Regions from separate parts of the Homo sapiens genome. Here region 1 is linked to region 2. Evidence: fine-mapped expression QTL. Tissue or cell type: whole blood. Region 2 holds a variant in brackets; the other region holds the start of a gene. All regions are shown on one strand. Distances are from middle to middle. Region 1 holds the start of GSAP (gamma-secretase activating protein). Region 2 overlaps GSAP (gamma-secretase activating protein).

Evidence for each region. PIP is the estimated chance that this variant, and not a neighbour inherited with it, causes the effect.
Region 1: it holds the start of GSAP, and the variant in region 2 is fine-mapped to the expression of GSAP in whole blood (INTERVAL, PIP above 0.99).

What each region holds. Positions count from the first base shown.
Region 1 is chr7:77,414,078-77,419,458 of GRCh38, forward strand. GSAP (gamma-secretase activating protein) reads right to left here and starts at 2,272. Exons shown (of 31, transcript NM_017439.4): 1 at 2,136-2,272. The coding sequence starts at 2,244. LOC101927243 (a long non-coding RNA gene) reads left to right here and starts at 1,121. Exons shown (of 5, transcript NR_110073.1): 1 at 1,121-1,271. RefSeq lists silencers at 1,438-1,727, 1,788-1,997, 2,218-2,567.
Region 2 is chr7:77,387,623-77,393,003 of GRCh38, forward strand. All of the region lies in intron 5 of GSAP (gamma-secretase activating protein), which reads right to left. Among named protein-coding and RNA genes, the nearest start is that of GSAP, 26 kb to the right of the region's middle. RefSeq lists an enhancer at 4,921-5,381. The variant T/C (reference allele first, on the strand shown) is at 3,034.

The DNA.
Region 1 (5,381 bases), 26 kb after region 2:
CAGCCCAGCTCTCTGTTTTGCCAGGAATATATCATACATATCTCATGAGAATTACTTAGCACCTCTAAGAAAACTTCAATTGTATTTGTTGATGTAAAAACATTAAGGCTTCAAATTCAGAAAGCAAGTATGCATAGAGGAGGCATTACAATGGTATAGTAATTCATAATTTACATTTGAAAAGCCAGAACTTTGAAAGGATAATGATTTCCACAAATGTGTGTTGTAACTGCTGTGCTAGAAATGAGACAGAATCCCAGATTTCCCTGCCACTGCTATAAATTACAGAACAGGAATTAATTTGTGTGGGGGTATTTTTGAGCTACCACCCACTGGTGATTATCAGAGGTGATAATTCTCTTAGTATAACAGGGCTAATATCTTACCAAGATATTTGCTCTGAAAGAGCAAAATACTACCAGTATCAGAAAAGCTAGTATTTCCAGAAAGTACCTTCTGAGGACCTAGAGCTATCTGTTGTTTAGTGGAAGGTCAATACACAAGTTTATATTTCTTCAGAGATGAGCGAAAGATACAAGGAAGCCAGGTCCCAGTGGGTCACACACAGCTTTTCAAGCACGACACACATTACGGAAACATAAGACTGTGGCATTTCACACTCATCTAACTTCTCATTTGCAGACACCTGCCATTTAGCAAAATAAAGTGGGAGTCCAGAAAAAGGAGTACTTGGTAGTAGAAGACAGAGCTGCCTGTTGTATTTCAAAAAGTTAAGCCTTCAAAAACTTTTCAGACATGTGGGCGACTTTTTTTTTTTTTTTTTTTTTTTTTTTTTTTGAGACGGAGACTTACTCTGTTGCCCAGGCTGGAGTGCAGTGGCGAGATCTCGGCTCACTGCAACCTCTGCCTCCCAGGTTCAAGCGATTCTCCTGCCTCAGCCTCCCGAGTAGCTGGGATTACAGGAGCGTGTCACCACGCCCAGCTAATTTTTGTATAAAATTCTTCCTTGACCACCCTCTCCACCTCGAAAAAAAGTAAAGCCTTACTAAGCATGACACTAATGCAAACTCAATGCATACGCTACACAAACATATAACTCCTTATTTGGAGCTAATAATATTCCAAGCCAAGGAAACCTACAAATAATTTCGCTATAGTCATAGGAGAGTGTGAAGATACAAGATAGCAACTTGATATATAACTCACATCAAGAAAACTTTCACCAGCGTTTAAGGGAAAGGAGTTGTAGATGTGGGTCATTTAATACCCACTTCCAAATTCACTGAAGTGGACAGCGCCCTACACACAAGGTGAGACCTACAGGCATCATTGCTTTGAAGCTGCATTTAAGCTCTGAAGCTCCAATATTTATAGAAGACTTTTAAAACTTTGTAAGAAATCACAAAGTTCCCCTTCTTTAAAACAGATCAGTGCTGGGAAGGCTCAAAAGTCACTTTCACTCCCTTACCAAATCATCAAAAAGCCCGGAGTGGCAGGGCCGGGAGCCGAGCATCTCGCGCGCAGCCCCAGCCTGCACAGGTGCGGAGCTCGGGGGCGGCTGGGGGCTCTCGCCCCGCCGCGCGCAGCCTGGAGGCGGCCCCTGCCCTCTTGCGCCTCACCGCCGAGGCCCATGTCCCCTGAGCCACGGACACGGTTCAACAGACACATAAACACGTCTCGCAAATGTGGGGACAAACTGTTCCACCGTTAGGTATAGGGTGGTTTGCTTGGTGGTCACGGATTCTTTCTCAAAACGTGAAGCTTCCAGGAGCACTCCTGTCTTGGCAAAGCCCCTGCGCTGCCGATGAACCCCCCGGGAGGTGGGATGCGGCCGCTGAGCTGAGCACGACCCTCTGCCCTCGCCGTGAGGTGATGCTGAGGGAACCGCCAGCGGCCCGGCCCCTCTGCCAAGGGCGAATTTCCGCGGGCCGGCAGCGAGCCAGGCGCCTCAGGCCCCACGGCGACCTGGCCCGGGCTCTGCCCCCAGACCTTCCGCCGTGGCTGGGTGTGGGTGGCAAAGCCAAAACAGCCCTCTGAGGAGGGGAGCGACGCCCTCGCACCAGCCTTCTCAGGGCGGCGACGCCCCGGGTTGCTCCCCACCGGGTCGGAGTCCGGGGGGTATGAGGGACTCCCACTCCCCGCCCCCACCCCTCTCCGCAGCGCGCCTCCCGCACCTGCGCCGCCGCTTCCGGCCCCGCTGGCCTCCGACACTGCCCGCTGCGCCCGCAACCACGGGAGCACGTCCTTCCCGAGGTCGAAGTCGGCGACCAGGCGAAGAGCCATCGCCCGGACACGACCACCGGGCGGCTCTGGGGCCCCGCACCGCGGGCATTCCCGGCCCCGCGTGGCCGCCTCGCCCTCGCGTCCCCGCTCCCGCCCCCTCTTTCCTCTCCCCCGCCCCCTGCTGCTTTCGGTTCTGCAGCGCCCTGGCCTGAGAAGCTCCGGCACCAGCTCCTCCCGGCCGGCGGCCCGCACCTGAGCCGGAGCCGGAGCCGGGCACGGCGGGTAGCGGTGGGGCGGGGTGGACCAGGCGCCAGGACCAGGCCCGCCGGGGCGGGAGGCCTCCGCGCGCACCTTCGGGGCTGAGGATAGAGGGCGCAAAGACGTGGGCGCTTCAGGGCCTTGGCGAGGCCGCTAGCCCAGTGGCTTCCAAACCTGGAGGGTCGGCCTATTTTCTTTATTCTACAAGTGCCTCCACTGTGCAGCAAAGTGTGGAAACCACTTGGCTTGAGAGAGCTGGGTCCTCTGGAGCAGTTCAGGGTCACCACAGAAGTAGGCCGTCTCTTGGGCCTATTCGCCCCAGCTTCGAGGTGGTGGTGCTTTATTAGTGTTATTAAGGTAATGAGTAGCAACTGGGAGCGTATGACGAAGGTGATCCCATTGTAAGAGAAACGCTAAAAGGGGTTAATGCGCTTGATACAAACAGCGTCCTTTTTGCCTTTTAACTCTAGTACATCTCATTTGATGCCTTGAGACATGAAAACTGAATCTTAAGTCTCCACGCAAACCCTCTGCCTCCCACCAGGGTCTAACAGAGCACTCTGGAAGGTGCTCGACAATTACTGAAGAATGAGTGAATACAGTAATAAAGAATGCTTTTTCACATGCTTCCGAAATTAAGGTCTGAAAACTACTTGTATTGACGTCATCTGGGGCACTATTTTACAATGCAGACTCCTGATCTCTACACCTGGACAAGACCAGAAACGTGCATTTTACCCAGAGCCTCGGGTGATTCTTAGGCTTACTAAGTTTGAAAACTACTCCAACCAAATGTAAAAGAAAGTCTTGAATTTTTTTCCCTCCTAGAGACATGTTTCTCCAACTGAGGTAATGGATGATTTCAGGTAGAACTCCATTACTCACCACCATATACAGAGGAAAGTCCTCCCACCCGGGAAGTGCATGCAAATTTAAGATAAATGCCTAATGAAGCTGCTAATATTATCAGTGAATAAAAGGAAGGCCACTGGAGCCCCCAAGGAGCTAATGCAACTATTTCATATCAAATAAGCTTGTTGCCTTTGTCATACAGAAACACTGTTGGCCAATTTTTTAAAGTCAGTACATTTCCATTGTTTTTATTTTTGCAGTTAACTTCTATTTTTGCCAGGCAGGACTGATTTTATAGTCAAGCAGTGATGATATAAAAAATTCTCTTCAAATTAAGTGAAAAAGCCAATGTAAAGAAGGTGAGAAACAATAAGATAATGATAGAAAGATGTGGCCAAAATCATGAGGGTGCTATATGAAGGCATGTGTATCAGTTAGGATTAGATTCTCCAGAAGTTAATAAGAACTCAGATTAACAGTAAATTAAACACACAAGTTTTATTCTGTCACCTAGCTGGACGTAGGCAGAATAAAGCTCTTAGGGCAGGTTCCTGAATTTATCAGGGACCCAGGCTCCTTCCAGTTCTTTGCTCCACCTGATCCTGAGTGTACCCTTGTCCTCATGATCAAAGAGGGCTGCAGAAGCTTCAGCCTTCACGTCTGCATTCCAGAAATCAGAATGGAAGAAGAGGAATAAAAAGAGGATGCTACCTCTCTTTTAAGGATACTTCCCGGAAGTTCTACACAACATTTCTACGTATGTTTCACTCACCAGAATTTAGTCACATGGCCAAATGTAGCTTTCAAGGGAGGCAAGGAAATATACCTGGCCATTGCTGTGCCCAGATAAAAATCAGGACGGTATTACTGAAGAAGGTGGGGAAAGTAGATATTCAGAAGCAATTAGAGATCTCTGTCAGAGTATGATACCCGATTCCGGCCACTGAGTTGTAAGGAAACCTCTGCTATGACAGATTTCTCTATTCTTAAAACAAGAGACATGGGAAAAGATGGTCCCTTTCAGTCTTTAACTATTTCGGGATCTAGATATGATTGCTGGAATTTCAGCCATCTAGCACACTGAAAATGGAGTCATTGGAGTCAGGAGAGTCCAGAGAACTGCAGAGAAGAGAAACCTTGGTAAATTATTTTTGGAGCCATCCTCTGCCCTTTCTGATATTAGAGATGTTGAATTTCCTATTGTTTAAATGATATTCAGTCAGACTTTTATTTTACTTGCAACCAAGGGTTTCAATTTTAAGGAGTGATCATTTCAAAATTTAGGGCACAGGCCAAAGAGCACTATAATAATAGGTTTGTGTTTGAACACTTATTAGAACACATTCTATATTTTGTATTGTTAACATAAAATGAAGTTATGTTGAGGGAGTAGGCTTACAGGAAACAGCTCAGATAAGCAAAAAGAGTTTGTTGCAAAGCCCTGAAAACCTAAGGGCCTCTGGATTAGATCACCTGAAAGTCATTCTACGTATCATGCAAGCCAGTTTGAGTTGGGTTTTCTGTTACTTGTGCCAAAAGCATCTTAAATCAGGGATTTTCAAACTTTAATGAGCATTCAAATCACCTAAGGATCTTGATAAAAGGTAGATTCTGATTCAGCAGGGTGAGGTGGTGCTGAAGAGTCTACATTTTAACGAGTTTCCAGGTCATGCCAAAGCTGCTGGTCCACAGATGACATTTTGAATAGCAACATTCTGCTACTTAATGTGAGGAGCTTTCCACCTCTGTATTGCTGCCTTACTGTCCACCATAGAGAGGGCCAGGTGAGGAAATGCATGAAATGGCTAGCTTTGAAGATATACCAGAGCTAAAGGTCGGTATGTGAGGAGAAATCTAAAATGGAGGTAAATATTGATTCCAGAAGTTTGAACCACGCCATGAGTCACAAGTTTTAGTAGCAAGCCACAGAGAATCAGCTAAAGGGAGGAGATAAAGGTGCTTACACTATAGTAGAGATGCAAGCACAAGGCAAGAAAAGAGGTGAAGCAATGCAGAGAATCAGAATCTTCAAAATTATGATTCTTGTGCACACCGAAGTTTGGGGAGCACTGGTCTAGCTATCTGGT
Region 2 (5,381 bases):
CCCAGTTCTACTCTCTAGGATGTGTAGCGGCTCCAGGACCCCAAAAGAGCAATCAGCCCAGCAAAGGACCTGCCTTCCACACCCTCAGGAGCCCTGAAGAAGCTGCATTTTATTATGAAAACCACAGGATACTCAAGAAATGCAAATGTGAAAAGGGAAGTCTTTGAACAGCCCTGGAAACAACAGTAGATACAAGGGAGACAAATTTCAGATTATAAGAATTCTGCATTTACAGAAAAGCATCACATTTAAAACACAAGTGGCTTCTGAATTCAAAGATCACTGTATATTACTTTGCACTCTCACCAGCAACATATAAGAGGGCCTAACGGGTTTCTAATGGATATCATTTTTCCCAATTATCACAATTCTATGATTTGCAAAAGCAGACATGTCTGAACTTTCTGAAAATATAAATATGCTAACTATTGTATTAGCTATTCTACCAGGGGGAAAAAAAGGTGATTTTCTTAAAGTTTGACTTTAAAGTTTGACTTTGACATTTCTACAAATTCAACAGAGACACAGAAAAGATCTCAAGGGAGAAATCAATGTGCACGGAGTGAAGAAGTTGTTTGTACTCACTCCATGCCATTTTTAGCATAGCTCCACAAGCCCTCTAGGCTTTTAAGTCTAAACAAACACAGTGCGATTCTCTGTCACTCCAATTCGGCAGCACAATGGCAAATATTGTTTGTGTAGGAAAATAAAAAGATTTCTGATACATGAACATGTTAAGGCTGACAGTATCTATCATTAGGACACAGGCTGGGTTTCCCTCAGGGACAGTGGTATAGCACTGATAATGACCCACTTACTTCTTCAGTGTCACATCTGAGCAAATGCCATAAAATACAGCAATCAGGAGGAAGTCCATGGACACAGGCTTCCCCGCATGGAGTTACCAAAGATATCTAAATTTAGGTCAAGGTTCCCCTTCCCCCAAGATTACACCGTAGAAAAGAAGGACTGGCCTTATATTTGAGCTTTTATTGAGACTCTAATATGATCCAGTGTCTCTCAGTGACTTCACTGTGAAAAATAATATACAAAATTTGGGGATGGCACAGAAGCGTGGAATTTAATCAGTGTTAGTTTTCAATATTTAAGAAAGCAACCTGAGAGCACTGCTTTATTTTTTGAAAAAAGCAAAGAACGTAAAACAATTTCTGAGCTATGTCCTAACAACTGGAAGGTCTGGATCTATCTATAAACATGCCTTTTAAATATTACTTGAAAAAGACAGTAAGTGAGTTATTATATTGAATCATATAATATACATACTACAGAACAAATGGAAATCCAATGTTTGGTAAATGGGTGCTTGTGGCTTAGGATGAAAATCCTAGTGACAGGATCTTACAACCAAGGGTATGGATGAGTTACTTTGGGAATCTACTTGATGACTCAAAAAATGGCTCCAGGAATAAGAAAGACATTGGTGTCAAAGATATTTGTGAAGAAAAATAGAATAGAAATGCTCTGTTGAGAGGTGAGTATGTGGGGGGGAAAATGAATTTTTCTTATTGTTATCTTAAATGTGTATGACTAAATTAGTATATTAAATAGCACGAACTGACATTTTTTTGACCTAAAAGTATGCGTGTGTGTATGTATGTGTGTGTGTATATATATATATTTTTTTGACCTAAAAGTATGTGTGTGTGTATATATATATATATTTTTTGTTTGTTTGTTTTGTTTTGTTTTTTGTTTCCATCCTGGTTAACATAGTGAAATGCCGTCTCTACAAAAATAAAAAAAAAAACGCGTCATTTAGCATTAGGTATATCTCCCAACGCTATCCCTCCCCCCCTCCCCACCCAACAGTCCCCGATGTGTAATGTTCCCCTTCCTATGTCCATGTGTTCTCATTGTTCGATTCCCACCTATGAGTGAGAACACGCGGTGTTTGGTTTTTTGTCCTTGGGATAGTTTGCTGAGAATGATGGTTTCCAGCTTCATCCATGTCCCTACAAAGGACATGAACTCATCATTTTTTATGGCTGCATAGTATTCCATGGTGTATATGTGCCACATTTTCTTAATCCAGTCTATCATTGTTGGACATTTGGGTTGGTTCCAAGTCTTTGCTATTGTGAATAGTGCCACAATAAATGTATGTGTGCATGTGTCTTTATAGCAGCATGATTTATAATCCTTTGGGTATATACCCAGTAATGGGATGGCTGGGTCAAATGGTATTTCTAGTTCTAGATCCTTGAGGAATCACCACACTGTCTTCCACAATGGTTGAACTAGTTTACAGTCCCACCAACAGTGTGAAAGTGTTCCTATTTCTCCACATCCTCTCCAGCACCTGTTGTTTCCTGACTTTTTAATGATTGCCATTCTAACTGGTGTGAGATAGTATCTCATTGTGGTTTTGATTTGCATGTCTCTGATGGCCAGTGATCATGAGCATTTTTTCATGTGTTTTTTGGCTGAATAAATGTCTTCTTTTGAGAAAGTGTCTGTTCATATCCTTCGCCCACTTTTTGATGGGGTTGTTTGTTTTCTCTTGTAAATTTGTTTGAGTTCATTGTAGATTCTGGATATTAGCCCTTTGTCAGATGAGTAGGTTGCGAAAATTTTCTCCCATTCTGTAGGTTGCCTGTTCACTCTGATGGTGGTTTCTTTTGCTGTGCAGAAGCTCTTTAGTTTAATTAGATCCCATTTGTCAATTTTGGCTTTTGTTGCCATTGCTTTTGGTGTTTTAGACATGAAGTCCTTGCCCATGCCTATGTCCTGAATGGTATTGCCTAGGTTTTCTTCTAGGGTTTTTATGGTTTTAGGTCTTACATTTAAGTCTTTAATCCATCTTGAATTAATTTTTGTATAAGGTGTAAGGAAGGGATCCAGTTTCAGCTTTCTACATATGGCCAGCCAGTTTTCCCAGCACCATTTATTAAATAGGGAATCCTTTACCCATTTCTTCTTTTTGTCAGGTTTGTCAAAGATCAGATAGTTGTAGATATGCAGCATTATATCTGAGGGCTCTGTTCTGTTCCATTGGTATATACCTAAGCTAAA[T/C]GACGAGTTAATGGGTGCAGCACACCATCGTGGCACATGTATACATATGTAACAAACCTGCACGTTGTGCACATGTACCCTAAAACTTGAAGTATAATAATAAAAATAAAAAATAAAAAAATACAAATCAATTACAAAAAAAAAATAGCTGGGCATGGTGGCACACGCCTGTAGTCCCAGCTACCCGGGAGGCTAAGGCAGGAGACTCGCTTGAAACCAGGAGGCGGAAGTTGCAGTGAGCCAAGGTTGCGCCACTGCACTCCAGCCTGGTGACAGAGCGAGACTCCGTCTAAAAAAAAAAAAAAAAAAAAAAAAAAAAAAAAAAAAATTAGCCGGGTGTGGTGGCACTCATCTGTAGCTACTCGGGAGGCTGAGGCAGGACAATCACTTGAACCCAGGAAGCAGAGGTTGCAGTGAGCTGAGATCACACCACTGCACTCCAGCGTGGGCAACAGATGAGGCTCCGTCTCAAAAAAAAAAAAAAAAAAAAAAGAAAAAGAAAAAGAATAACCATATATTTGGCTTTTTTTTTTAAGCAGGAATTTGTACCCAAAGGAGACAGCCAGCTATCAGCAAGATTTTCTTACCTTTAAAATGGGAAGATCTTTGAAGGCAGAAAACACCTTTCTACACTAATTTTTCCCTTCTCAAGTACAACCCAGACATTTGACTAATACTACTAGCATAATAAGAGCCAACCTTTGCAAATAGTAATTTCTCTCAATAACATACCATGTGCTTTCACAGTGAAAAAGGAAGCATCGTGAATTAAGATTCTAGAGACATCAGTTCTAGTTTCAGTTCTGCCATTATCCTGGTATTTACTTCACAGCAAATCACCAAGCTTTCCTAGGCCTCAATGCCTCATTATTAAACATAATAAAACATGCAGGGCAAGGTGCTCACGCCTGTAATCCCAACACTTTTGGAGGCCAAGGCAGGAAGATCATTTGAGGCCAGGAATTTGAGACCAGCCTGGGCAACATAGTGAAACCCCATCTCTACAAAAAAATGAAAAAAATATTAAGAACAAGCTGGACATGGTGGTGTGTGCCTATAGTCCCAGTTACTCAGAAGGTTGAGGTGGGAAGATCACCTGGGCCAGGGAGGTCGAGGCTATAGTGAGCCATAAGAATGTCAGTGCACCCCAGCTTGGGCAACAGAGCAAGACCCTGTCTCAAAAATAATCAGAATAAAATGAAAGACCAAAGAACCAGATTACTTCTACAATCCCTTTCAGCCATAAAATCCCATTATTCTATGAGGTGCTAAATTAAGAATTTTGATGGCCGGGAGTGGTGGCTCACACCTGTAATCCCAGCACTTTGGGAAGCCAAGGCGGGTGGATCACCTGAGGTCAGGAGTTCGAGACCAGCCTGGCCAACACGGGGAAACCCCGTCTCTACTAAAAATACAAAAATTAGCCGGAAGTGGTGGTGGATGCCTGCGGTGCTGGCTACTCAGGAGGCTGAGGCAGGAGAATCTGAACCTGGGAGGCGGAGGTTACAGTGAGCCGAGACCACACCATTGCACTCCAGCCTGGGTGACAGAGCAAGACTCCATCTCAGGAAAAAAAAAAAAAGAATTTTGAGAATCAAGATATCAGTGGAGACTGGACACAGTGGCTCATGCCTGTAATCCTAACATATTGGGTGGCTGAGGTGGGCGGATTCCCTGAGCTCAGGAGTTCAAGACCAGCCTGGGCAACATGACTAATCCCCTCTCTGCTAATAACACAAAAAATTAGCCAGGCGTGGTGGCGCACACTTGTAATCCCAGCTACTCGGGAAACTGAGGCAGGAGTATCGCTTGAACCCGGAAGTTGGAGGTTGCAGTGAGCTGAGATCACACCACTGCACTCCAGCCTGGGTGACAGAGCAAGGCACTGTCTCAAAAAAGAAAAGATTATCAGTGGAGACTGGGAGACCATCACTGAAGGGGAAGACAAGACCAGGCAATATCTGGATACCACAAGGAGAGACAGCAGGATCAGGCAGAGGGATAGACATGACATGAGGAGAACGGAGGTGAGCAAAAGACCATGGTGTGATCCAGGCACATGCTGTGAAATGGTGACAAGGATGGGAGAGTTCAATATGGCCTGGTTCTGAAGGAGCTCTGGTTATTCAAGCTCTTGAACCGAATCACAGCTTCACAGAGCATCTGTGACACTTGACTGTCTATGATGGTGAGAGGGAGTTCTGGAAAATCTCAGTGGCAATGGGGCCCCTGACCCATATGGTCACCCCAATTGCTGCCCAGTGGAAATCTGCTGTGACTTGTGGCAAATGCAACTCCACAGGGGAGGATGAAGGGGACAGCCAGAGCCTGGTTTCCTATGGAAGTCC